5 separate regions of the Homo sapiens genome follow, and regions 1, 3, 4 and 5 are each linked to region 2. Evidence: fine-mapped expression QTL. A gene starts in region 2. Each other region holds a variant in brackets. All regions are shown on one strand. Distances are from middle to middle. Region 1 overlaps RFPL3S (RFPL3 antisense). Region 2 holds the start of SLC5A4 (solute carrier family 5 member 4). Region 3 overlaps BPIFC (BPI fold containing family C). Region 4 overlaps LOC107985561 (a long non-coding RNA gene). Region 5 overlaps RFPL3 (ret finger protein like 3).

Region 1 (5,176 bases), 110 kb after region 2:
AAGACTCTGTCTCAAAAAAAAAAAAAAACAAAAAACCCTCCATAGCCACAGCCTGGAAACCTCTGCCCCAGGACTCTGCCCCAGGACTCTCATTCAAGGTTCACTCTGATCCCCCTTTCCCTCTGACTCCAGATGTCCCTTCCATTAACCCAATGGCTCTGCCTCTTCTCCCAATCCTTCACCAGTGAAAATGCCACTGATTCTCTCTCGTGAGCCCTCTGAAAGTCTTCTCATAAAATACCACTCTTCATCCTATTTTTTTAAGTCCACCTCTAGATCACTAACATTTGTTTTCAGATTTTGGGTTCCACATTCAGAGGAATGTTTCTGTCCTTCCACTTTCCAGTCAAGTCTATTATTGCAGGAGTGGAATCAAGATTCTCCTAAAATGATAAAGCACTATGGCTGTGTTTGCTGTGTATTCTCTGGAAGTGTGTGCCCAGGATTGCCAGTCTTTATTATTTGGTAGAAATAAAAGTAAGTCACATGGTCCTGATATTTACATTTTGAGTTTTAAAAATTTTTATATTGTTTTCATCAAAACTCACTTTAGATATTAATATGTTCATCTTGGTATTTTCTTCTAAATGCTATAAACCTGTGTTTCCCATTATTTGTTTCTCTTAGTGAGCTATATCCTTCTGTGAACCCCTGCTTGCTCTCAGAGGGATCCTAAATACAGAAATGGAGATTTGCATTACTGTTTGGAAAGATCTCATTTTCCGTTCTCAGAGCCTCCTATGTGCCTTAGAGACCACCGTGTCCCTGCTTTAACCCTATGTAATAGAAACAAATAAGATCTTTATTCTCAGAAAATTCAACAGTCTTCAGAGGAACCCACATTCTTACACAACTCTGTCATCCAGGTCTCAGGCAAAGCCCTCATAACTTGGCAAAATTTAAGGTATCACAACTTTACAAGCTTCTATTTGTTATTATAAAGATGTGCCCACTTTTAGTAGAGATTTTAGCAACAGTTGCCTAGTTAATAAAACATAGAAAGTTCTAGAAGAAAGCACATAAAGAACATACTATGTAAAATTTGACCTAAAAATGACCAATCTCACAGGGACACACAGAGCTGAACAACACACACGGGGCTATCGGATGGGGGACGGTGGGAGGAGGGAGGATCAGGAAAAATAACTAATGGGCGCTAGGCTTAAAACCCAGGTGACAAGATAATCTGCACAAGAAATCCCCATGACACAAGTTGACCTATGTAACAAACCTGCACATGCACCCCTGAACTTAACAGTTAAAAAAACTGGTGGGACAAAATGAGATACCATTTCACACCAGTCAGAACGGCTATTACTAAAAAGTCAAAAAACAGCAGATACTGGCAAAGTTGCAGAGAAAAGGGAGCACTTATATACTCTTAGAGACTGTGTAAATTAGTTCAACCATTGTGGAAAGTAGTGTGGTGATTCCTCAAAGAGCTAAAAACAGAAATGTCATTCAACCCAGCCATCCCATTACTGGTTATATGCCCAAAGAAATATAAATCATTGTACCCTAAAGACATCCACACATATGTTCACAGCAGCGCTATTCATAATAGCAAAGACCCAAATGCCCATCAATGACATACTGGATAAAGAAAATGTGGTACATATACACCATGGAATACTATGCAGCCATAAAAGAGAATGAGATGATGTCCTTTGCAGGAACATGGATGGAGCTGGGCGACAGAGTGAGCCTCCATCTCAAAAAAAAAAAAAAAAAAAATTGTGCCGGGCGCGGTGGCTCATGCTTGTAATCCCAGCACTTTGGGAAGCCAAGGCAGGTGGATCATGAGGTCAGGAGATCGAGACCATCCTGGCTAACACGGTGAAACCCCATCTCTACTAAAAATACAAAAAATTAGCCGGGCATGGTGGTGGGCGCCTGTAGTCCCAGCTACTTGGGAAGCTGAGGCAGAAGAATGGTGTGAACCCAGGAGGCGGAGCTTGCAGTGAGCCGAGATCGTGCCACTGCACTCCAGCTTGGGCAACAGAGCAAGACTCCGTCTCAAAAAATAAATAAATAAAAAATAAAATAAAAGTTAAAAAATAAATGACCCGTCTTATTGACTAACCTCACCACGGTCTTATGGATTCAATTAACCTGTTCAATTCTTTTTTGTGTTTACTCCATCAACTTCCTGTGTAACTGCACTCCACAAGGCACATAACCACACTCCACAAGGCACATAAAACCACTGAAGAGAGGAGGCAAATGAGGTCTTTTATCCTCCCCTTCAATTGTCTTACAAAGCTCATGCCTGAGTTTAGAGCATAAGTCATCAGTTTAGTC[A/C]TAAGTCTTATAACTTCCCAAATGAATGCTTTAACTGCAGCTACAGTACATATCATGTGTTGAGTAGCACTTCTCATGTGCTTTTAAGCAACTCTTTCAATATTGAGAGACAAGATTCAATACTAGGGAAATATTCTATGGTATTACATCATTAATTTTATGTTACAGAGACCATATATTGAAAATGTATAAATAATGAAGTCCAGTCTTACTTTCAATACTGTGTGTAAGTTCATTGAGTGTGCAGACCCCTTAAGCTTGCACTCACCTGTGTGTTAGACACACATTCACAAACACATCACACAGACCTACACATAGACACCTTCTGCCTTGGTGCACACAAATCCACCCCACCTAAAGTGAATATGCCTGTTTCCAGGGATTGCACATAGGTGACAAGAGTTTGTCACCTGAAAAACCAGTTTTAGTTCACCCCAAATTCTCGTTCTTTCCAGGTGTCTTGGATCATGGAGATGGTCTAGATGAAAGTCAGCAATTAAGTTCCACATTTCTTATACATACACTTTTTTTTTTTACACCTGGTGAATGATTCCAGAATACATACCATTTACTGTGTTCCTTGGGGTCACCTGCAATTAGAAGAAAGAAAACACTCTGAGGATGAGATCATACTGTGGGCTGTTTGCACAGGTCTTTCGTTCTCTTAGGGGCTCTTGGTAACCAAGATGGGAAAGAATGTTTAAGTCTAAAGCCCCAACATCTAGAGTAGAGTTCATCTGTAGAAAGCACAATAGCTTTTGTTGAAAAGTATCTTTGTTGGCCGTGCTCAGTGGCTCACGCCTGTAATCCCAGCACTTTGGCAAGCCGAGGGAGGTAGATCACGAGGTCAGGAGATCGAGACCATCCTGGCTAACATGGTGAAACCCTGTCTCTATTAAAAATACAAAAAAAAAAAAAAATTAGCCAGATGTGGTGGCGGGCACCTGTAGTCCCAGCTACTCAGGAGGCTGAGACAGGAGAATGGCGTGAACCCGGGAGGCGGAGCTTGCAGTGAGCCGAGATCGTACCACTGCACTCCAGCCTGGGCTACGCAGCAAGACTCCGTCTCAAAAAAAAAAAAAAATCTTTGTCAAGACCATTTTGAAGTAGCAGTTACAAAATACTTAATCTAAAGTGGAAAGCTTGTTGCAGAGGAAAGTGTCCCCTAACATGCTGTGTGTGACCCAGCCCTGCCAATTCCAGATGTCCTCTTCAATCAGGTGTCAGTGGGTGGGGTGCACCCCTCCATCCCCAAGGAAACATCATCTAACACCTATAACGCACCTGATCATTTTTCTCTATCTGATATCAATTGAAAAATGAAATAACCAAGAAAATTACACACATGTTAGGCAAAGACAGGCTACTTTACCTTGGTAACAGAGAAGGGGTCCTCACTTGCCCACTCTTTGGAATCCACCTTCCATTGATCTTCTGGGGGAACTGAAAGGACACAACATGACTGTCAGTTCATTGGTGGTGACATGAACAAAGGGCTAGAACTTATGGATGTGGTTGGTTAACAAGCATGAATTGAGCTTCTCCTGGGCCATCCTCTTCTATGGACCAAGGAAGGCAGAGAGACGGGCAGAAAGGAAATGAGAAATAGAGCCTTTGTCTTTCCAGGTAATAGCAGATGAAAGCGACACGAAATACTCAAACTTCAAATGAGCAACTACTAAAATGCATGCTAGAATTCAACCACAGAGTCCTGTCACTCCCTCAGCCCATTTTAAAGTCCAGCAGAACTGCCACTGACTCCTTGATATTGACCAACTCCCTTTCAACCTCCACAGACCCCCATCTGCTGCTGTAACATTTAACATCTGGGGTATAGGATTCAGCCCCTGTTTATGTGTAAATTTTTATTGAGGAACTAAATTCAATATCAGGTACCAGGGCTAATTATATTTACTCAATTCTTTGTTATAAATCAATTATTAAAAACTGGAAAATACTGAAATACATGTTAAAATATCCACTGTAAATCAAAGATCTTCCTTTTAGTCTTCCCTTCCTATCCCTTGTGTTTGCAATCATTGCATGAGGGGGCCTAGTTTCAGCCAGGTCTAGTTCACCTAGCCATATGAGGTCTAGTTTCAGCCCAAGCTACCCACAGTGAAGGAAGGCAGAGTGAGGAGATGACCCCATGTGAGCACCGAGGCTCTTTAACCCAGCTGTACAGGAGAGTTGCCACAAGGGTGACACCTGAGGCTAATTGTGAAGTGGTATCCTGTGTTCTGTGATTCTTGTGCCTTAGCCACCTGAGTAGCTGGAATTACAGGTGTGCACCACCACGCCCAGCTAATTTTGCATTTTTAGTAGAGATGGGGTTTCTCCATGTTGGTCAGGCTGGTCTTGAACTCCTGACCTCAGGTGATCTGCCTGCCTCGGCCTCCCAAAGTGCTGGGATTACAGGCATGAGCCACCGCGCCCAGCTGCCTTATTTATTCTTAACACATGTAAGTGCCTCTAACTTTCGATTGTTTCCAAGTCATGGAACGAACAACCTCCTTAGAAAGAACTCTGAAGGATAGGTCAGGAGAACTAAGTCACACAATCCATCAGAAACAGTATTAACAGTTTTTCAAAGTTACACTTTATATGCAAACTTGTACAATTATCATCTTATTATTTTTAAATGTATCTTTACATATATGTATGTGACCTACGTGTTTCCTGGTGTGAGTAAATCTGTATGTTCTTGGTTAATAGTGTTTACCGATTCATTTCACTTCTCTATCTTTGTATGTTGAAATATGAACTACTCTCTGGATGAGAAAAAATGATTACACTTGATTATATTTACCTTTGGAAAGGTAAGTGGTTTGGGTGATTGACTATAATTGTTATCTCTATCATTTTGGATAAACCC
Region 2 (5,000 bases):
TCTGTCTCAAAAAAAAAAAAAAAAAGAAAATAGACAGATGCTGAGATGTTTCAGTCACTACTCCTCAGAGCAGGAGTCAAGCAAACAATGGCCCCTGGGCTAATCCAGCCCACAGTCAGTTTCTGAATGGCCCACGAGCCAAGAATGTTTTTTTACATTTTTGCATTGTTAAATAATGGTAAACAATCTAAGTAAGCATAATATTTTGTGAAATGTGAAATTGTAAACTTGTGAAATTGTATGATTCAAATTTCATTGTCTGGAACACAGCCGTGCTCATTGGTTTTCCATATGGACTTGGGCTGCTTTTTGTCCTACAACAGCGGGGTTCTGTGGCTGCAATAGACTATATGTCTAGAAAACTCTAAAGTATTTACAATCTGGCCTTTTACAGAAAAGCTCGTTGGCCCCTGTCTTGGGGGAGCATTGGTCAATCTACTAAAATGCTCTGAGTTGAGCCTGTCCTTGGCCAAGCACTGCCAGATCTCCCATCAGCTCTTCTCCCTTTAATCATATGCAAAGACCCCAAGCTGGCTAGGAGGGAGTTTCTCTCCATCCTCCCAGCCACAGGACACTCTTTTCATTCATCCCCTCGCCATTACAGTGTCTGCTGTTCTAAAGACCCAGAGACCAAGAGAGGTCTCTTGAGTGGACGTAGATGAGCACCAGTCCTAGCAGAAGAGAATTGGGGTGTGGCTCTTCCCACTTTTTAAGGCCTCTGTAAAATCACTTTTTCTGCTCAGCTACATGGGGCCAGAGGATGGGATTGAGCTGGTTTTTGGCTTCAAGATCGCTTGAGCCTCCTTGCATGTTTCACTAAACAGTCCTAAAAATGCAATGTCTGATTGGATGTCCCAAATAAAATTCATTTCAAACTTCCAGTTGTTCTGCTTCAGTCACCCCAGCCAGGACAGTTGCCCATCTCCACTTCCCCTCATACCATTTAGAAAATGAGTCAGATCTGTGAAGGAAGCATTTGCTAAGCACCCACTGTATAATGTGATGCTGGGCTGACACTCTCCAGGTGCAGAGGGGAAGATACAGCCTCTGCTGCAGTGGGACCCTGGCTGAGGGGGTCACACATCAAAACCCCACAAGAACACCCACTGGGCAAGAATCAAGAGGCATCAGCATTAGCACCATCACAGGGAACACAACCAATAACTGCATGGGACATAGGGACCCATGGAGAGAGCCGGGAGGCTCCTCAGATGAGAAAGGGCTGAGGTGAGGCATTGAAAGAGGACAGCAGACAAGGGGAGGCCAATCCTAACAAGAGGGCCAGCATCAGCTCAGGACTGGCAACAAAGCAGGAATGCGCAGAGCTTGTAAGAAGCCAGGAGAAGACTCTTGATAAGGAGCAGAAGAAAAGAATATAAGGTGGGGCTGAGCTGGGGTCCTTCAGTGCCAGACTGAACCGGCTGTCATAATAGGTGACATATTGTAATGTCCTGGAATTACAGAGAGGAGCCATGAAGTCGGGGATTTAGGAAAGGAGCCCCAGCGAGTAGGCAACCAATGTACATCAGAAATGATCAACATTCCCAATGTTGTCTACATTCACTTTTTTTTTTTTGAGATGGAGTTTCATTCTTGTTGCCCAGGCTGGAGTGCAGTGGTGTGATCTAGGCTCACTGCAACCTCTGCCTCCCAGGTTCAAGTGATTATCCTGCCTCAGCCTCCTGAGTAGCTGGGATTACAGGCATACACACCACCACGTCCAGCTAATTTTTGTATTTTTAGTAGAGATGGTTTCACCATGTTAGTCAGGCTGGTCTCGAACTCCTGACCTCAGATGATCTGCCAGCCTTGGCCTCCCAAAGTGCTGGGATTACAGGCGTGAGACACCGCACCCAGCCTACATTCAGTTTTAAGCACACACACAGGAAATTTATCTCCAGAAAACTTCGATCCACTTACCGGCCACCAGGCCATATCACGACCAGCGAGGAAGAAGCCTCCTATAGTACCTCGGTTGGTCTTCAGCATCGCCTGAGCAGAAGGGAAGACAGGTGAGGGTCAAGCCCCAGCAAGTGCACCCAGACACCCCAGAGGCTCTGGCCAGGGTGCTGAGAGGGGTGACTTCAGCACTCCTACAGAGAGAAACATTTCGCTGGAAAGTGTTCTATAGCATCAAATTTTAAAGGACTTCAAAAACAGTCGCTTTGTAAAAACCCAGGGCTGGAAGAACTTAAAAAAATCATAATCCTTAACTTCTATCTTAACTGCTCTGATTATTCTCACTTATGAAAACCATGTGAGGTATCATTGAGCCATGCTTGCAATAAAATTTGCAGTCTCGGCCGGGCACGGTGGCTCACGCCTGTAATTCCAGCACTTTGGAGGGCCGAGGCGGGTGGATCACAAGGTCAAGAGATCGAGACCATCCTGGCCAACATGGTGAAACCCCGTCTCTACTAAAAATACAAAAAGTTAGCCGGGCGTGGTGGCGCATGCCTGTAGTCCCAGCTACTTGGGAGGCTGAGGCAGGAGAATGGCGTGAACCCAGGAGGCGGAGCTTGCAGTGAGCCAAGCAAGCGCCACTGCACTCCAGCCTGGACGACAGAGCAAGACTCCGTCTCAAAAAAAAAAAAAATTTGCAGTCTCAAATTTATTAAAATAAAAAAATTCAACATAAATGAAGAGTCCAACTCACTAAATCAGAAAGTGAGCAAACAACAAAAGAAAGCGAAAGAAATGCGATAATAAAAATACACTCTTTGTCCATTATGCCAGGTGTTGGGGATGCATAGTAAATCTGAAGGTCCCGGTGCTGGCTGTGTGCACACGATGGGGTTATTAGGAGAATACATTAGTTCATTGTAAGCGTTATTTATGCAACACACAAGAAAATGATTCTGATAACACAATGACATTTGTGAAAAGCTTTGTCACAACCACACCCCTTCCCCCCTTAAGATACCCCCTCCTAAACCTTGTGCCCACCCTAAAAGCCACTGGGATTCCACCTACCCACAGCCCAACAGCCATCACCACCAGAAAATAGATGACAATGACTGAGATGTCAGCAGCATTTCGGATGTGGTCAGACAATGGAGGTGGCTCTGGGGTCTCAGCTATGGTGCTGGGGCTAACCGTACTGGCCATGGCTGCAGGCAGTGCTATACCCATTCCACGCATGAGCCATCTTTATATAAGTTCTGGGTTAATGATCAGCCTCAGGCAGGTGGGGCGAGATATCAGAGCCAGCTCCTGGATATGGAGACCTTTAAACCTCTTCTCCAAAGCTGTGGCACCCCAGCCCTCCACCAGTGAGTGCTAGCCTAGGTAGAGTGTGAGAATGAGGGATGCAGGGCCAGAAATGAGGGGAGAATTTGAGGTGGAGCATGGGGCGTTCTCTGAGTGCAAAGACAGGGTCTTTAAAGAGATTTGCCCAGGTGGAGGGGGGATTTGAGAGAAATGAAGACAGACAAGGAGGGGAGAAGGACAGACTAGAAGGTACCAGAAACCAGCCAGGAGGGACCGAATGCAATGGTCCTTCAGAGAACAGATACAGTTTCTGACCAATGAGCTATATCCCTTGACAGTGAAGTGAATTATGCCTTTCGTGGATTCCAAAGTCCCACATTTCTCTGAAGTGGGTTTCATGTGCCACAAAAAGACATTGGTGGCCTGTATAGGAAAGGAAGTGGCTCTTCAAGCACCATATGTGGTGAGTTGAGGGCAGAGCTGTGGAGAGCGCTGGGTCAGAGGGTTGTACAAAGAGTGAATCAACCTGGAAGCATGTGATGGGGATCATGAGGACTCAGGAAACAAGACTCCTGGACTACAGCCAAGAAGAAGTTAGAAGTAAAGCCTATGCGGTGGCTGACACCTGTAATCCCAGCACTTTGGGAGGCCAAGGAGAGAGCATCACTTGAGGCCAGGAGTTCAAGACCAGCTTGGGCAACATAGGGAGTCTTTGTCTCTATAAAAATTAGCTGAGTGTGGTGATGCACACGTATGGTCCCAGCTACTTGGGAGGCTGAAGAGGGAGGATCACCTGTGACTGGGAGGTCAAAGCTATAGTGAGCCATGATCACGCCGCTGCACTCTAGCCTGGGCAACTGAGCAAGATCCTGTCTCAAAAACAAACAAAAAAAACAACAACAAAAAAACAAAACCAAAAACACACATGAAAAAACGGAAAGCCCAGAAATTCTTCTTTTATACTTCATTTTTTATTGTGGCAAAGCATACATAGCATAAAATTTACCATTTTAATCCCTTTTAAGTGTACAATTCATTGGCATTAAGTACATTTACAGTGTTATGCAGCCATTACCACTATCCATTTCCAGAACTTTTTCATCATCTCCAAACAGAAGTATGTACCCACTAAAAACTAACTCCCCATCCCTCCCTCTCTCCAGGCCCTGGTAACCTCTGTTATTCTTTCTTACTATATAAATTTGCCTATTCTAGGTACCTCATACAAATGAAATCATACAATATTTTCCTCTTTGGTTTATTTCACTTAGTATGACATTTTCAAGGTTCATCCATATTGTAGCATGTATCAGAATTTCCTTCCTTTTTAAGGCTGAATAATATTCCAATACTCATATATACCACATTTTGTTTATCCATTCAACTGTTGATGGGCATTCAGGTTCTTTCTATACTTGGCTATTATAAATAATGCTGCTGAGAACACTGGTGTGCAAGGATCTGTTTGAATCCCTACTTTCAATTCTTTTGAGTCTATATGTAGAAGTGGAATTGCATGTGATAATTCTGTGTTTAACTTTTTGTAGAACTGCCAAACTGTTGTTCACAGCAGCTGCACTATTTTACATTCTTTCCACAGTGCATAGGAGAGTTAATTTCTCCATATCCTCTTCAATACTTGTCATTTATGTTTTAATTATAGACAGGCTAGTAGGTATCAAGTGGGTATCACAATATAGTTTTGATTTACACTTCTAACACAATCACTAGTAGTGTTGATTTTTTCATGTGCTTATAGCCATTTGTGCATCTTCTTGGAGAGAGATATA
Region 3 (5,176 bases), 170 kb after region 2:
CAGTTTCTCCCTGTTATTTGGTCAAAATTTGATCTTAGAATGGGGAAAAAGAATGAAATACTAGTACTACTAGGAACAAATATTTCTGGATCAATGACTATATGCTGACTGTTGTGCTAAGTGATTTACATACATTATCTCATCCACCCATACAACAACCCTATGGAGGGGTGTTCTGTTTTGCTAATGAGGAAACTGATACTTAACGAGGTTAAGTAACTTGCTTAAGGTCACTAGGTAGCAAGTGGCAGAGGTAGAATTCAAATCCAGATATGCCTGACTCCAGAGACTGTGCTCTTAACTAGACATGCTCAAAGAGTTCAAGTGTATTATTAGAATTGCTAGTTTTTTACTTTCTTCACCATTTTCTCCCCTTGATTCCTTGATGCGGTGACAAAAGTGCTGTGTGTTTTTTTCTATTTCAGCACAACCAGTTCCAGTGTTTTCTCTTTCTTTTATCAATGCTGAATATTGAAAAAGGGCATGCTGCCTGTTTCAACTTAGCGTGACTCCATGCTTATGGGTTTCCTCTTCCAGGCAAGGGTATAAAGGTATTTATTTCCTAAATCTTAAGTGTTATTTTCTTTCTTCTTCTTCTTCTTCTTCTTCTTCTCCTCCTCCTCCTCCTCCTCCTCCTCCTCTTCTTCTTCTTCTCTTCTTCTTCTTCTTCTTCTTCTTCTTCTTCTTCTTCTTCTTCTTCTTCCTCTTCTTCTTCCTCTTCTTCTTCCTCTTCTTCTTCCTCTTCTTCTTCCTCTTCTTCTTCCTCTTCTTCTTCTTCTTCTTCTTCTTCTTCTTCTTCCTTTTTTTTTGAGACGGAGTTTTGCTCTTGTCGCCCAGGCTAGAGTGCAGTGGTGTGATCTCGGCTCACTGCAACCTCCGCTTCCTGCATTCAAGCGATTCTCCTGCCTCAGCCTCCAGAGTAGCTGGGATTACAGGCATGCACCACCATGCCCAGCTAATTTTTGTATTATTAGTAGAGATGGAGTTTCACCATGTTGGCCAGGCTGGTCTCGAACTCCTGACCTCAGATGATTCACCTGCCTCGGCCTCCCAAAGTGCTGAGATTATAGGCGTGAGCCACCACGCCTGGCCTTGCCTTATTTTCTAAGTCAAAGCTCTTCACTACATCAAAGGCAGTATACTGTGGTAAGTAAATACTCACTGCTTTGAAAGCGGACTCACCCAGGTTCAAGTTCTGGCTCAGCCATTCAATAGCTCTGTGACCTTCAGTAAGTTATTTAATCTCTACAAACTGTAAAATGGGGATAATAGTACCTACCTCTAGGACCGTTCATTTAATCTACTGACATTTATTGAGCACTGTGCCAGGCCCTGGAGACACAGAGTTGTAAGATTTAAAATGAAATAATAGAGGTGTTGGGCTTGGCACAGGACCTAGTAGATGACAAAGATCCAATAATAAACAATAGCCATGAATTATACAAAAAAGGACTATTTCTTAGCTATCCATGGGCAGGATACAGGGGAGCGAAGTGTATTCTGAATCAGGGGACTCTGGAAATGATCTTGTACGATTGAGCACCTCCTTGTCCTGGCTGAGGCTATCTCTAAATTTGAAATCATAGTCAAAGCCAACAGCTAAGAAATAGTCTTTTTTTGGTACAGTTCATGACTATTCTTTATTATTGGGCCTTTACCGTCTATTAGGTCCCGTGCCAAGCCCGGTGCCTCTGTCATTTCATTTAAACCTTACAACTCCGTGTCTCCAGGGCCTGGAACAGTGCACAATAATGGTCAATAGATTAAATGAATGGTCCTGGAGGTAGGTACTATTATTCCCGTTTTATGCTTTATGGAGATTAAATAACTTACACCCAAGATCACAGAGCTATTGAATGGCAACCACACACTTTACCTGTATTAACTCTCATACTTCTCACAACCTTCTCCTGAAGTAGTCTTTATTACACCATTTTACAGAGGAGGAAATGGAGTCCAAGAGAGGTTAAGAAACTCGCCTGAGATGCCAGAGCTAATTAGTGGCAGCACTGGGATCAGAACCAGACCAGCTAGTCTGACTCCAAAGCCTGTGATCCTACAGTCTGTCTAGACCACCAACACGGGGTTTGTCTCTGATTTCTGTATTTGCTGTCTATGCAGCCAGCCCCGAGCAGCTCCAGGAAGAGGCACATTCAGGCAGGGGATAGTTAGAGAGGCCATGTTGTTCTGGGGAGAGTAATTTGGAGCCCCCGTGTTCCCTGGTTCTTCTCAGGGATGTTCCACTGATCTCCACCCACTTGATCCTTTTCCTGCTGCATCTCTCTGATATCACCCAAGACCAAACCAGCTCATCTTGAAAAGCCTGGGGAGCCCAGGAGTGGAGGAGCCAGCTGGGGCAGCCTGCATGGGAGGCAGGGCTAGGGATCCTACTGCCAGAGCCCAGGGCTGTCATTTCAACACAGCCTTGGCTCCTCTGCAAAGTCTTGCCTCCTGGTTTGGCTGCTTTAAACCTGAGTGAGGCCCAGCCCACCTGCCTTGCCCCCAGCCTGCTCACTGCCTGAGGTTTGCTATAACACCCCATGCAGGAGACACCCTCACTTGTGCTTAGAAGCCCCCTGTGCTTGGTTTAATGCCTTGCCATCTCTATCTTAAAATTCTTGACCAGGCACGGTGGCTCACGCCTGTAATCCCAGCACTTTGGGAGGCCGAGGCGGGTGGATCACCTGAGGTCAGGAGTTCGAGACCAGCCTGGCCAACATGGCGAAACCCCGTCTCTACTAAAAATACAAAAATCAGCCATGTGTGGTGGCACACGCCTGTAATCCCAGCTACCCAGGAGGCTGAGGCAGGAGGATCACTGGAACCCGGGGTGCAGAAGCTCC[A/G]GTGAACCAAGATCGTGCCACTGCACTCCAGCCCTGGCAACAGAGCAAGACTCTGTCTGAAAAAAAAAAAAGAAAGAAAGAAAAAAGAAATTCTTAATCCTTTTGAAAAGAGGCTCTGCATTTTCATTTTGCAGTGGGCCCTGCAAATTATGTAGCCAGCCCTGCTCAGACCCAGCTAAGGCATCAGAGCACCAGAAGTCTGCCCAGCGGAGAATTTCCAGGAGACTGCTGGGCAACAGACAACAAGCCAGAGGTCCTAATTTCAGGGTTCATGTTCATGAGGTCAAAGAACTCTGTGGACTGTAGGAAGCCAAGAGAATGAATTCACACATTTCCGGGATGATGTAAATTTATCGGCTTAAAACAGTTTTTTCTATTACTCCCATAAATAAACATAACAGCCATTGAACGTGCTGTTGCTTACTAGTATTATAGAAACATTAGAGATAAGGCTCAGTTTGATTTAAGCAGAAAAGTGAACCTGGTCTCCATGCTTCTTAAAGTCTTTTGCACCTTCTTGCCACAACCCTGAAGTTGAATCATGATTAAATTCTTCCTTGAGATCCTGCCAGTAAACCAGACACCTGCTCAGATGCAAGTGTTGTTTCTACCTTCTCTAGGAACCTTCTGCCTCAGTTAGCAGCCCTGCCCCTGTGCCCCGCCCCGCATCACTCCCCATTTCCAGCCTTTCCTTTCCTCCTGGTTCTTTCCTCTTTGTTTCCCAACAGACTGAGCATCACGGTCCCGATGCTCAGGCAATGCTATCCAGATTCTCTCCTTCCTTCCGCTCGTGGCCGATCTCAGATGCTGCCAATTTCTCACCTTTGGTTCCTTCCCCCCTCACCCTCATGCTCTCTGGCTTTCATCCTCTGTATTAGAACTGCCAAATATCACACCTGTAATCCCAGCACTTTGGGAGGCCAAGGTGGGTTGATCACGAGGTCAAAAGATCAAGACCATCCTGGCCAACATGGTGAAACCCCGTCTCTACTAAAACTACAAAAATTAGCTGGGCGTGGTGGCGTGCGCCTGTAGTCCCACCTGCTCAGGAGGCTGAGGCAGGAGAATCACTTGAACCTGGGAGGCAGAGGTTGCAGTAAGCCCAGATCGTGCCACTGCACTCCAGCCTGGGTGACAGAGCGAGATTCTGTCTCAAAACAAAACAGAACAAAACAAAACAAAAAAGAACTGCCAGATAAAGATCACTCTTCATGGTTCAGAGTTTCATCAGCCTGATTCCCTGGAAATGGGGTCACCTCATGACTTCTGGAGGCCTGAGGCACTTTTGTCTTTGGGGACCTTTCTTCTGTTAAAAAAAATGAAAATTATATTTTATAACTATTTGATATAAAGATAAGTATGATCAAGTCTAAATTGTATTCATTTTTAAAAATTATTATTTTAAAATACATTAAAACGTGTGTGTGTGTGTGTGTGCGCGCGCGTGTGTGTGTGTGTGTGTGCTTTTGGACAGGGTCTTGCTCTGTCGCCCAGATTGAGATCATAGCTCACTGCAGCCTCGACTTCTTGGGCTCAGGCAATCCATTCACCTTGGCCTCCCAAAGTGCTGGGATTACAGGTGTGTGCCACCCTGCCCGGCCTCTCATGGGCTTTTAAAGTATTGTGGCTCTAGGCACTGTGCCTATTGTGCCTAAAGGAAGCTAATGAAGAAGTCAGGACTGCTTTGAAGGGCTTGGTAAATGCGAGTAAACCTTCGTAAAACCTTTTCTTTCTGGGAAACCATACTACTTTAAACAAACAAACAAACAAACAAAACATTGTATTTCTGGGCATGGTGGCTCACGCCTGTAATCCCAGCACTTTGGGAGGCCGAGGCCCCAGATCGCCTGAGGTCAGGAGTTTGAGACCAGCCTGGCCAACATGGTGAAACCCCATCTCTACTAAAAAATACAAAAATTAGCCAGGTGTGGTGGCAGGCGCCTGTAATCCCAGCTACTTGGCGGGCTGAGGCAGGAGAATCACTTGAACCCGGGAGGCGGAGGTTGTAGTGAGCCGAGATCGCACCCCTGCACTCCAGCCTGGGTGACAGAGTAACACTCCATCTCAAAAAAAAACAAAATTATATTCCCTTTGTTGGAAAAACAATATACTTACAAAGAAAATTTTAATGAAAAAAGAACCCTCTCATAATCCCATATCCTAATACAACTCTTCATTTTCAGTTTTGTGATTCACTTCCTTGTCCAGATGCAAAGCTATTTTCCTCTTCCGGATGCAAAGCTATTTTCCTCTTCCAGATGCAAAGCTATTTTATACAATTAACAGCTGTTGTGTTTGTGCAGTTTTGTATTCTGTTTTTTCCATTTAACATA
Region 4 (5,000 bases), 87 kb after region 2:
ATTGGTGTTGTCATCGTATTACTAAAAAGATTACATGCAGTATAAATGCCCCGCTGTAGGGAAATGACTGCATGAATCCCACACATGGAATCCGGACAACTCGGTGGCCGCTGAAATGGTATTTAGAAAGGTCAGGTAAAATCGCAGGGTCATCGCTGATTCAATAGGAGAATAAAATCAAGGCACATCATTAGAGACGCGCAAAAGCAGGTGTGCATTAGAAGGGAGAAAAACGCAAAGCAGTCGTAGCTGCGTGTGAGTGGGATCCGTAGCGGCTTTTCTTTTCCTATTTTTTACTCTTCAAATAATGGTCGCAACAATCATCACAGTTAGCATTTCCTGAGGCATCTGCCACAGGCCGGGCTCTGTTCCAGTCCTTACAATCATCTCACAACCTAAAGGCTACTTGTGTCCATTGTACTGATGGGAACACTGAGACTCAGGAGAGCTACTGGCTTACCTGCAGTTGCCCACTGGCCCGTAGACAGGATCTGAACTCAGCTCTGATTCGAAGACTACGCAGCTCACCCCTCTGCGGGTTTGCTAGAGTAGAGTACAGCTAGGAGGTGTTCGACGTAAACTCATGAAAACTAAGCGTGGGTGTTGTGTTTTTACCTTCTGTTCCGCCGGGCCCTCCTCTTGTGGGGAGTGGTTTGCAGAGGGAGGTGGGGAGCCACCAGGTGGAAGAGATGAGTACACCTGCCGCCTCTGGAAAGATTCAAGGCTGCGAAAGACCTTCACAAATGGTGCAGGGGAAAAGACAAACCCCGAGAGCAAAACCAACCATGCACCCCAACAAAGACTGGCACCCTCACCTCGTTTAAACCCCTGCCTGGTAGCCCACGAAGGGGCCAATGGCAGATCAGAAGCCAGGCTGAGTTTCAGGAGGCTCCTGGACCCAGACCAGGACTTGTTTCACTGACACCTGCGGGCCAGATCTCAGGTGCTTTCGGGGACCCCCGAGGTTCTGCCCTGGGGATGGGTGAGACCTGCCTTGCACAGAGAACCCACAACCACAGGGCAGCTATGCACCCAGCATAGAGTGGCATCATCTCAGGTTTAGCTCTCACAGGGAGAGAAGTAAAGGCAGAGAAGTTGCTCTTCCCAGTAGAAGGATGTCGGCTTTGGAGTTCACCAGACCTTAGTTCCAATTCCAGCTCAGCTGCTGTGCGTTTCCCAGGAATCTCTCTCCGAGCCTCCTCGGTGTCTCCTTCATAAAATGAGGCTCGGGATGGCCAAGCTGCAGTGCAGCTGGGGAGGCTAAATGGCACAATTTGTTACAGCTGCTTAGCTCAGTGAGCCCTCAACAAATGGGAGCTACTGTTACTAACGGTACTAATGCAGTTCATTGATCGGACACTGTCTAGGTGCCTTCTGTGCACAAGGCACTGGGCAGGAAGATTCATTCATGCAACATGGATGTACTGAGCACCTACTATGTGTCAGGCACTGTTCTATATGCTGGGGTCACAGCTGAGCACAAGAAACACCAATCCCAACTCTCTTGGGGTTTCCATCCAGCAGAGGAGACAGGCACAAAGCCACAAAGCAAACGTTATGTCAGGCGGCGACGCACGTGACAAGGCAGCTGAAGGAGGACAAAGGGAGAGTGACGGGAGTAGGTGGCTGCTTCTATTTTGTAAACCTTGGTCAGAGAAGGCCCCTTTGATCGGGTGACCCTGAGCAGGGGCTGTGGAAGGGAGGCATGAGCCCTGCTGGTATCCCGGAGGGGAGAGGTCTGGTTGGAGGAACAGCAGCGGGGCTGGTGCGGCTGCAGCCAAGTGCCAGTGTCGGGAGATGAGGACAGAGGGACAGTGGGGTGGGGTGGGGTCAGATCATGTTGTTGGCCAAGGAAAGCATTTTGATTCCTAAGTGCAAAGGAGACCATCGGCACGTCTTGACTTAATGTTTTTAAAAGATCGCCCTGCCACTGTCGGGGACACAGGCTGGCATCAGGGAGACATGCGGAGGCGGCTGCCTCCATCCTGGCCAAAGACGACGGACAAGGAGGGCTGGTCTCAGTGGAGGGGTGGGTGCGGATGGATTCTGGCTTCATTTTCAAGGTATTGCTGATGGAACACGTGAAACAGGAAAGAAAGAGAGGAGCCAATGAGATGGTAGGAGGCAGCGGGGACGTGGATGTGCCAGTCTCCCACGTCTATGGGGTATCCAAGAGCTGCTCTTGAGGACTCAGGCTCTGCAATGAACAGCTAGTCTGGATTCAAGGGAGAGAGACCAGGGGAGAAAGACTGGGAGGTGGACAGGATTGGAGCTGTGGGTCTGGGTGGGGGTCCCCAGGGAGTGGGTGGAGATGAGAGAGAAGTTAAAGGGAAGAGCCCTGGTCTCTAAGATCAGGGAGATGAGGATGGAGCCGCAAAGAGGAGCAAGAAGGGCGGCCGTGAGGGGCCAGGAGCCTGTGGGGCAGAGGACCCAGGGCTCCCCAGTTCCCCTCAGCCCCTCCCTCCTCCGAGGCTCTGCCTATGCTGCCCTCTCTGCCGGGATGACCTTTCCCCACTTTGGTGAACTCCTAGCTACTCATCCACTGAAACTCTTTGTGTTGGCTCCTCCTCCCCTGGCTGACCAGTGCTTAGTCCAGTGGACCGTGAATCCTGGGACAGCAGAGCACTGTCTTCAACAGAGCCGTGAACAGCGGGGAAGGCTCACGGACGTGACGCCGGAGAGCATCCTTCAAAACCTACCAAATGCTTCTTGCCACAACTGAGTAATTCTGAAGTCCTATCCGTGGCCTAAATGGCCCCTTATGTTCTGCCCCTGCCAACCTCTTCATTTCCTACACTTCTTCTGCTAATGCACTCTGCCTAACGCTGCCTTTCTTGCTGTTCTCCAAATACACCCAGCGTGTTTTCAACTCATGCCCTTTTTACATTTCACTCCCTCCACCTGAGTGAACCATGAAACTATGTGAGTAAAGAGCATATTCAGGTCTCTGCTTAAATTGCCTCTCGTTAGAGAGATCTCCCTGGATC[G/A]CTTCATTTTCTCCCCGACATTTAACACTACTTGAAATTTTATTGTTATTACAAAAGCATTTTATTTTCTTTGTCTCCCCAGGCAGACCGTAAGCTCTGTTCACCAATGTATCACCAGTGGCTAGTACAGTCCCTGGTATATGATACAAACTCAAACCCTATGTGCTAAATAAATGGTAGCAGGAATTAGCATAAAATAAAACTGAAAATGGCTAATGCTACACAAATGGCTAATGCTACACATTATAACTAAAACATGAAGTTTGCTTTAGATGTAAGAACTGACTTGAGAACCTCTTCCTTTTGATTTCAAAGAACACAAAAAAATTTGACCCAGGAAAAATTAGACCTGGTAGAAACAACACCAAGTAACATTGTAGAAGCCTAAAACCACACAGAATAAAATCTGTAACTAATAATGATGGAAGAAGCAAATCTTGACAATAATCAAGATTTGTAATAACTAATCTATGTGAATGAGACCTGGTAGATATAACTATAGAGAGAAAAAAACCACTAGCAGGAGCTGAAATCCACAGACTTTAAGATAAACAAAAACAACCCAAAATTTCTTTGTGAAAGTTAATAATCTTAATAAATTAAAAATCAAAATAGAAGTACTTAGAATTTACTTCTACTTCATATAAAATTAATTTAAAAATTAAGCTTATTTAAGCAATACTTAGAAGTAATTTACTTCTACTTCATATGAAATTAATTTAAAATTAAGCTTATTTAATAGTGTCCACTGGAAAATACTTTCCCAATAAAAGTTATTCAATATTATAATAATTCTGATTCAAATCTGGATTCCCAAACATGCCAGCTAACATTCTGGAGAGGAAAACACCCATCAGAACAAAATGGCATATTCAAAATTAGAGTCAAAAAATATTCACTTCAATTAATACAGAGCATGAGAAAACTAGCTTTTTGGCTGCTAGATCACATTGTTGACAACTGCTATTTCCAAGTTTTGTCTTTTTTCCCCCAATCCCTGCCATGTAGCCATGGCTCCTGTACAGTTGAGTATTTAATCAAACACAGAACTGAAAAAATCATCCCTTTCAGATCTTACATGGTTGGTTGTTGAATACTTCTGTAATCCTAAAACTTGTTTGTCTTTCTCAGCGGCCTTCTAATACTCTCTCATGCTTTGCTGCATTCTGAAGGTGACAAAGGTCTTTATGACCATGTCATCTCAAACTGTGAAATAAACTGGTCACAACTGTGACACTTTTGGCAGGTGGTTTCACACCCCCACACCTTCCTTTTTCCTAACCATCTTCCAGTTTAGAATGAATGTGTGCCACGGTGTGTTCTGGCCATAGAGACATAGTCAGAAATCTGCTAGATGGGGCCTTTGGGGAAGACACTGCTAACCTGACAGAAAAGGACAATCAGCTGACATATCTCCTTGCCTTTTTCCTCCTTAGTCCTTTTCCCTTGTTCCTATCTGGATGGCAGATGAGATATGATGGCAGATGGAGGCATGATGAGAAAAACAACACGGTAAAAGCAACACTCTAAGAATCTTCCATTTTAAGAAATGGAGAAAAGTAGGGTTGCTGATGGCATCACAGAGTTGTCGGCTGCCAACCTCCAGACTCTATGCTACATGAAAACATAAATCTCTATTTCTCTTAGCTACTGTTAGTTAGATTTTCATTGCTTACATCCATAAGCAGTCTTAACGGATAAACTATCAGCTAATCTTCATGCATAGCTACTACATTTTTGTGGTCTCTACCCAAACTTTTCAAGGCTCTGTTGATGAACCCAATTATCAAGTCTGAGGCAGCACTAGATAAATTATCAATTAGAAAAGCACATTTTAAGTCATGCAAAATAAAACAATGCTAATACAACTTTTCTACTTCACCTTTGTTCAATACACATTTTAAGGAGTGAGTCAGAAGAGAAGCAGAATCATTCCACTGGTTTGTTATATTGAACTCATCCCTGGCATTATAGATCTAATAAGTAAGTCTTTAGTGTATATCTCCACCCACA
Region 5 (5,176 bases), 110 kb after region 2:
TTCCCTTGTGTACTTTTCCCCTGGCAGTGGACATGGCTGCACTCTTCCAAGAAGCAAGCAGCTGTCCCGTCTGCTCAGACTATCTGGAAAAACCAATGTCCCTGGAGTGTGGATGCACCGTCTGCCTCAAGTGCATCAATTCGCTGCAGAAGGAGCCCCATGGGGAGGATCTGCTTTGCTGTTGCTGTTCCATGGTCTCTCAGAGGAACAAAATCAGGCCCAATCGGCAGCTAGAGAGGCTGGTTTCCCACATCAAGGAACTGGAGCCCAAGCTGAAGAAGATTCTACAGATGAACCCAAGGATGCGGAAGTTCCAAGGTAAGGAATCTGTATACCCTGCCCCCTTCCCAAGACCAGACCAGGAAAAATCATCTGTGCAGTTGGCCCCTCATTCCACATGGGGATTAGCTGCTGTCTGGCACCTAAAATTGAGATGCTTCATCATCACATTCTCAGCCCTGACAACACATAGAATCACCTGGTGATGTCAAAAACAAAAACAAACAAAAACCCGATGTCTATGTCATGGGTTAGACAAGGGATTCTCTAAACTTAGTGTGCTCAGATTACCTGGGGATCTTGTTAAAATGCAGATGCTGAACTGGGAAGTCTCAGGATTGATCCCGCTGGCTTGGGGACTTTGCTGAGTAGCAAAAACATAGAGCAACTGAATTTGAATTTCTCTCTAGCAAAGGTTCCCATGAATCTGACATTAAGATGGGCCTGGTATTTCTAATGCACAGTGAATATTGGCACCCATTGTACCAAACAACCTCACCCCAGGGTTGAGAAGAGTTGGGAATGGAGCACCTATGGTGTTTGTTTCTGTGAGTGGGGAGAGTTGCAGATATTGGTCTCCTCATCCATGCGCCATGGGCTCCAACAGTGGTCCTGGCTACAGAAAATACTATCACTCTCCATAACTCTGGGGAAAAGGGACATTTAAATGAAAAGGTTATGGTCAGCCTGGGCAAAGAATTACACCTATAAATGGTGGTGGGCCCCTATAATGTCCCTGACACTGGTAGCTTCTGCCCTGACACCCATGATCTCTACTCATCCATCTACCCATACCTGACTGTCTCTCTGCTGAACTATGGAGGACAGAGATTCACCCTGTCCAAGTCATGTTTGGAACCCTCTTCCTCCTTCCTTGTCCATGTCCATTCCCTAATTCACCATTAAATAGCAATCAATCCCTAGTCTTGACTAGGGTAGTCTTACTGTGATCTATAAAATCTATATTAGTGATCATATCAGTTTTTTGACTTGAAGGATAATATATTTTGTAGATTTTTTTTTTTCAGAATGTTCTGGACAATTAATTTTCTCTAGGCCAGATCACACTGCCTCCTCCATGAGAATTGGCGGCTTCACCTGTCAGTCACATACCCAATGCCTTAAATTATTGACCTTTGTATTTTCTGCCCTTATTCTCTACAATCAGTCAGTTATGACAGACAACTTTCAAATACCTTTCTCTTGGCTCCAAAATTTACCATTGTTTTGCTTAAGGTCTCACCTTCCATGTAGGATAGAAAACATTCTTTCATCTAAAAGGTCCCCCTCCTCCACCTGGCCTTAGAGCCTCCTAATGTCCAGGACCAGCATCTCTGTCATCACATTGTCAGCTGCAGAGATACCCTATCTGCTGTCAGAACTGTGCACAATTAATTTGTTTACAAACATGGAAAACAAAAGCCTGGAATCATGCTCTATATACTGAATTGGAGCAATAAAATGTGGAAGCAGAAACATATTTAATATTGACCACTTGCATTGTCTTAATTATCATTTATTTGTTCACACATCAAGGTGGTAGAAAGGGGGGCATGGTGTCTGCCTTCAGAGACCCTCCACTCTAAATGAAGAAAAGTTCAGTGAAGCAAACACGTGACGTAAAGTAAAATAAGAATTGCTACTGTGAATAAGAGTCACGTATTGCCACAAAGCATACCTATGAAAATTTGAAATAGGGAAGTTTCCTCATGAAAAGTTTTGATTTTGGAGGAAGAAACAGAATTAAAGAAACTAAAGTCAGGAGATATTTGGGCCTTTGAAGTAGAAGAGAGGCATGGGGTTGGCTTCTGTCCACTTGCTGAGCAACTTGTTTTCCTTTTCACAGTGGATATGACCTTGGATGCCGACACAGCCAACAACTTCCTCCTCATTTCTGACGACCTCAGGAGCGTCCGAAGTGGGCTCATCACACAGAATCGGCAAGACCTTGCCGAGAGATTTGACGTGTCCGTTTGCATCCTGGGCTCCCCTCGCTTTACCTGTGGCCGCCACT[A/G]CTGGGAGGTGGACGTGGGAACAAGCACAGAATGGGACCTGGGAGTCTGCAGAGAATCTGTTCACTGCAAAGGGAAGATCCAGCTGACCACAGAGCTTGGATTCTGGACTGTGAGTTTGAGGGATGGAAGCCGCCTCTCTGCCAGCACGGTGCCGCTGACTTTCCTCTTAGTAGACCGCAAGTTACAGCGAGTGGGGATTTTTCTGGATATGGGCATGCAGAACGTTTCCTTTTTTGATGCTGAAAGTGGTTCCCATGTCTATACATTCAGGAGCGTCTCTGCTGAGGAGCCACTGCGCCCATTTTTGGCTCCTTCAATTCCACCTAATGGTGATCAAGGTGTCTTGAGCATCTGTCCTTTGATGAACTCAGGCACTACTGATGCTCCAGTCCGTCCTGGGGAGGCCAAATAAGCCGCCACTGCAAAAAAAAACAGGGTCAGAAAATTACTTGGGTGGGTAGACTTAGGAATTTTCTACTTGGTAAAAGCATTATACAGTCATAGGAGAAAGATATGGGACATTTCTATAATCTATATTCTAATTTGATTCGATTATTGAGTCGTAAGTATTAATTATTGCCACCATCCAACTCATTGAGTCTTATGGTTCACATCTTGTTTCCTATAGAAATGTTCTGTATTCTCGGATCAATTTCCAAATGCTTTACTTTTTCATTTCTGTAAGTTCAAATCAATGTTTAAATTATAGAAGTTATGAGGTAAATAAACATTTGGATATCACCTAATGCATCATGTGATTTTCTAAATGATAGGAGTGCAATAGATTTTATTCATAGTAAAAACATGAGTGTGTGTGTATGTGTGTGCGTGTGTGGGTGTGTGTGTATTTGAACGGAGAGCTGGATAAATGCCTATGTCCTATCCAGAACTGAAAAGTTATCGCCATCATTGCTCAGTGTGGGTAACATTTTCCTGGATGTGTGTTCCTGCATTAATGAAAATTCCCCCCAATTAGTTATTGCAATTATTAATTGTAATTGCAATAAAATTAATAAATTCATTTTATTAATTTATTAAATTAATAAATTAATTAATAATTAAATCTTTATGCAGAGATTAATAAATATGCAGGCTAACAAAGCAAAAAAAGATAACACACATTACTAATATCAGAAATAAAAGAGGGGCCATATCTACCAAACTGTTGGTCATTAAAAGGATAATCAAGGACTATTATGAATGACTCTATTCCCACAGTTTGATAACTAGGTGAAATGTATCAATTCCTTGAGAGACATAATCTTCTCAAGGTCACACTAGGAACACAGACAATCTGAACAAGCCTCTGCCTATTAAGTGAATTAACATTAAGAACATTCCAAAAAAGACAACACCAGAACCAAATGATTTCTCTTACGAAATCCACCAAATTCTTACGAATCCCAACATATTTTCACAATATAATCCGAAAATTGCGCTCTTAGGTACGTACTCAGTTGAGATGAAAAGTTACGTCCACACAAAGCCTGCACAGGAATGTTTACAGCAGCTTTATCTATAACCACCCAAACTAGAAGCGAGCAAGATGTTTAAGAGGTGAATGAAAAAACAACCATCTATAAAACACAATATTATTCTGTGATTTAAAGGAGTTCTCCATCAAAGCATAGAAAAGACAATGGCATGTATCAGAAAGACTGTGGGGGCATGCATTCATGTGGATGAGACCACACAGGCAGCAGAGCAGGGTGACTTTAAGTATATTGATGAGTGAAGTAAGTTCAGCTGAAAAAGCTACATAATATTGGGCTGGTGCAAAAGTAATTGTGGTTTTTGCCAGTTGAAGAATGGAAAAACCGCAATTACTTTGCACCAATCTAATATATGACTCCAACTGTATGACATTCTGGAAAAGGCAAAACAAAGGGGATGGTAAAAATACCAATAGTTGGCAAGGTTTCTGGAGAAAGAGGACAGAGATTCATAAGTAAAGAAGAGGGAATTTTTGGAGCGGTGAGAGTATTCCTTACGAGATCGAAATGGTAAACATAACAGTAAATATTTCAAAATTCATAGAAATGTGTAACAGGAAAAAGAACACTATGAGAATGACAGACTTTAGGTACTAATGTATCAATATTTGCCCATTACTTTTAGCAAATATAACACAGTAATGTAAGATATGAATATTAGGTGGAATTATAAGGTAGGGTGAGAGAATAGAATGATGTGGGAACTTTGTGTATTACATGCTAGATTTTTATGTCAATCTAAAACTCCCTTGGTTAAACATTCAGTTTTAAAATTATAGCTCCACTGTTTCAGGGAGATCACAATAATGTTCAACAATTGAGTAACGTCTAGAGATTAGTTTGAAAGATTGTCTTACTATTAAATGTGAATCAAAATTGACTTTTAAATGTATATTTAATTTTGTGATTTCAGCAATACCTCTTGATTAGGCAAATAAAAATTTTGGCACATTTAAACATATGGCTTAACCTCCTCTATAGCTTCTTCTAACATATGGGACACTGAATACAATCCACAATTGTTATTCTTAAATCAACTTAATAAATTTCCACGGTACCTTCATGTGAGTGCACCCGGTGGTTTGCCCAGAGTCCAGGTTGTGTCATGTGCCTCTTGGTGTAGAGGCTATATCTTCTTAAAATTTCTATCAGAGAAGAGCCTGGTTAATCTTTTTGCAATGCAGAGAACTAATGACATGTTACTGACAGAAGACCAGAGGGAGAATTGTGATAATTGGTTCTAACTTCTGATCCCATTGTTTACTGGCTTCCAAGCAGAGCCATCTGAATCAAAGTTAGGTCTCAGGAAGATCGTGGAGTTCAGTGAGCACTTTATACATGGATTAGAAAGACTGCGTGGGCGATGGCTTCACATAGGTGAGACGATAC

Evidence for each region. PIP is the estimated chance that this variant, and not a neighbour inherited with it, causes the effect.
Region 1: its variant is the best candidate, but not a certain one, in a credible set for the expression of SLC5A4 in prefrontal cortex (BrainSeq, PIP 0.62).
Region 3: its variant is the best candidate, but not a certain one, in a credible set for the expression of SLC5A4 in tibial nerve (GTEx, PIP 0.69).
Region 4: its variant is the best candidate, but not a certain one, in a credible set for the expression of SLC5A4 in visceral fat (GTEx, PIP 0.86).
Region 5: its variant is the best candidate, but not a certain one, in a credible set for the expression of SLC5A4 in prefrontal cortex (CommonMind, PIP 0.61).

The regions. Positions count from the first base shown.
Region 1 is chr22:32,364,824-32,369,999 of GRCh38, forward strand. It overlaps RFPL3S (RFPL3 antisense), which reads right to left. Exons shown (of 5, transcript NR_104232.1): 3 at 3,674-3,744; 4 at 2,867-2,891. Among named protein-coding and RNA genes, the nearest start is that of RFPL3S, 3.9 kb to the right of the region's middle. The variant A/C (reference allele first, on the strand shown) is at 2,302.
Region 2 is chr22:32,252,222-32,257,221 of GRCh38, forward strand. It overlaps SLC5A4 (solute carrier family 5 member 4), which reads right to left and starts at 3,126. Exons shown (of 15, transcript NM_014227.3): 1 at 2,974-3,126; 2 at 1,921-1,992. The coding sequence starts at 3,108. All of the region lies in intron 2 of SLC5A4-AS1 (SLC5A4 antisense RNA 1), which reads left to right.
Region 3 is chr22:32,423,990-32,429,165 of GRCh38, forward strand. All of the region lies in intron 13 of BPIFC (BPI fold containing family C), which reads right to left. Among named protein-coding and RNA genes, the nearest start is that of RTCB, 14 kb to the left of the region's middle. The variant A/G (reference allele first, on the strand shown) is at 2,844.
Region 4 is chr22:32,338,947-32,343,946 of GRCh38, forward strand. LOC107985561 (a long non-coding RNA gene) reads right to left here. Exons shown (of 2, transcript XR_001755500.2): 1 at 4,066-5,000. It also overlaps a transcript of SLC5A4 not described here. Among named protein-coding and RNA genes, the nearest start is that of RFPL3, 16 kb to the right of the region's middle. The variant G/A (reference allele first, on the strand shown) is at 2,988.
Region 5 is chr22:32,358,127-32,363,302 of GRCh38, forward strand. RFPL3 (ret finger protein like 3) reads left to right here. Exons shown (of 2, transcript NM_001098535.1): 1 at 1-318; 2 at 2,126-3,035. The coding sequence ends at 2,706. It overlaps RFPL3S (RFPL3 antisense), which reads right to left. Exons shown (of 5, transcript NR_104232.1): 5 at 1,780-2,713. Among named protein-coding and RNA genes, the nearest start is that of RFPL3, 2.8 kb to the left of the region's middle. The variant A/G (reference allele first, on the strand shown) is at 2,294.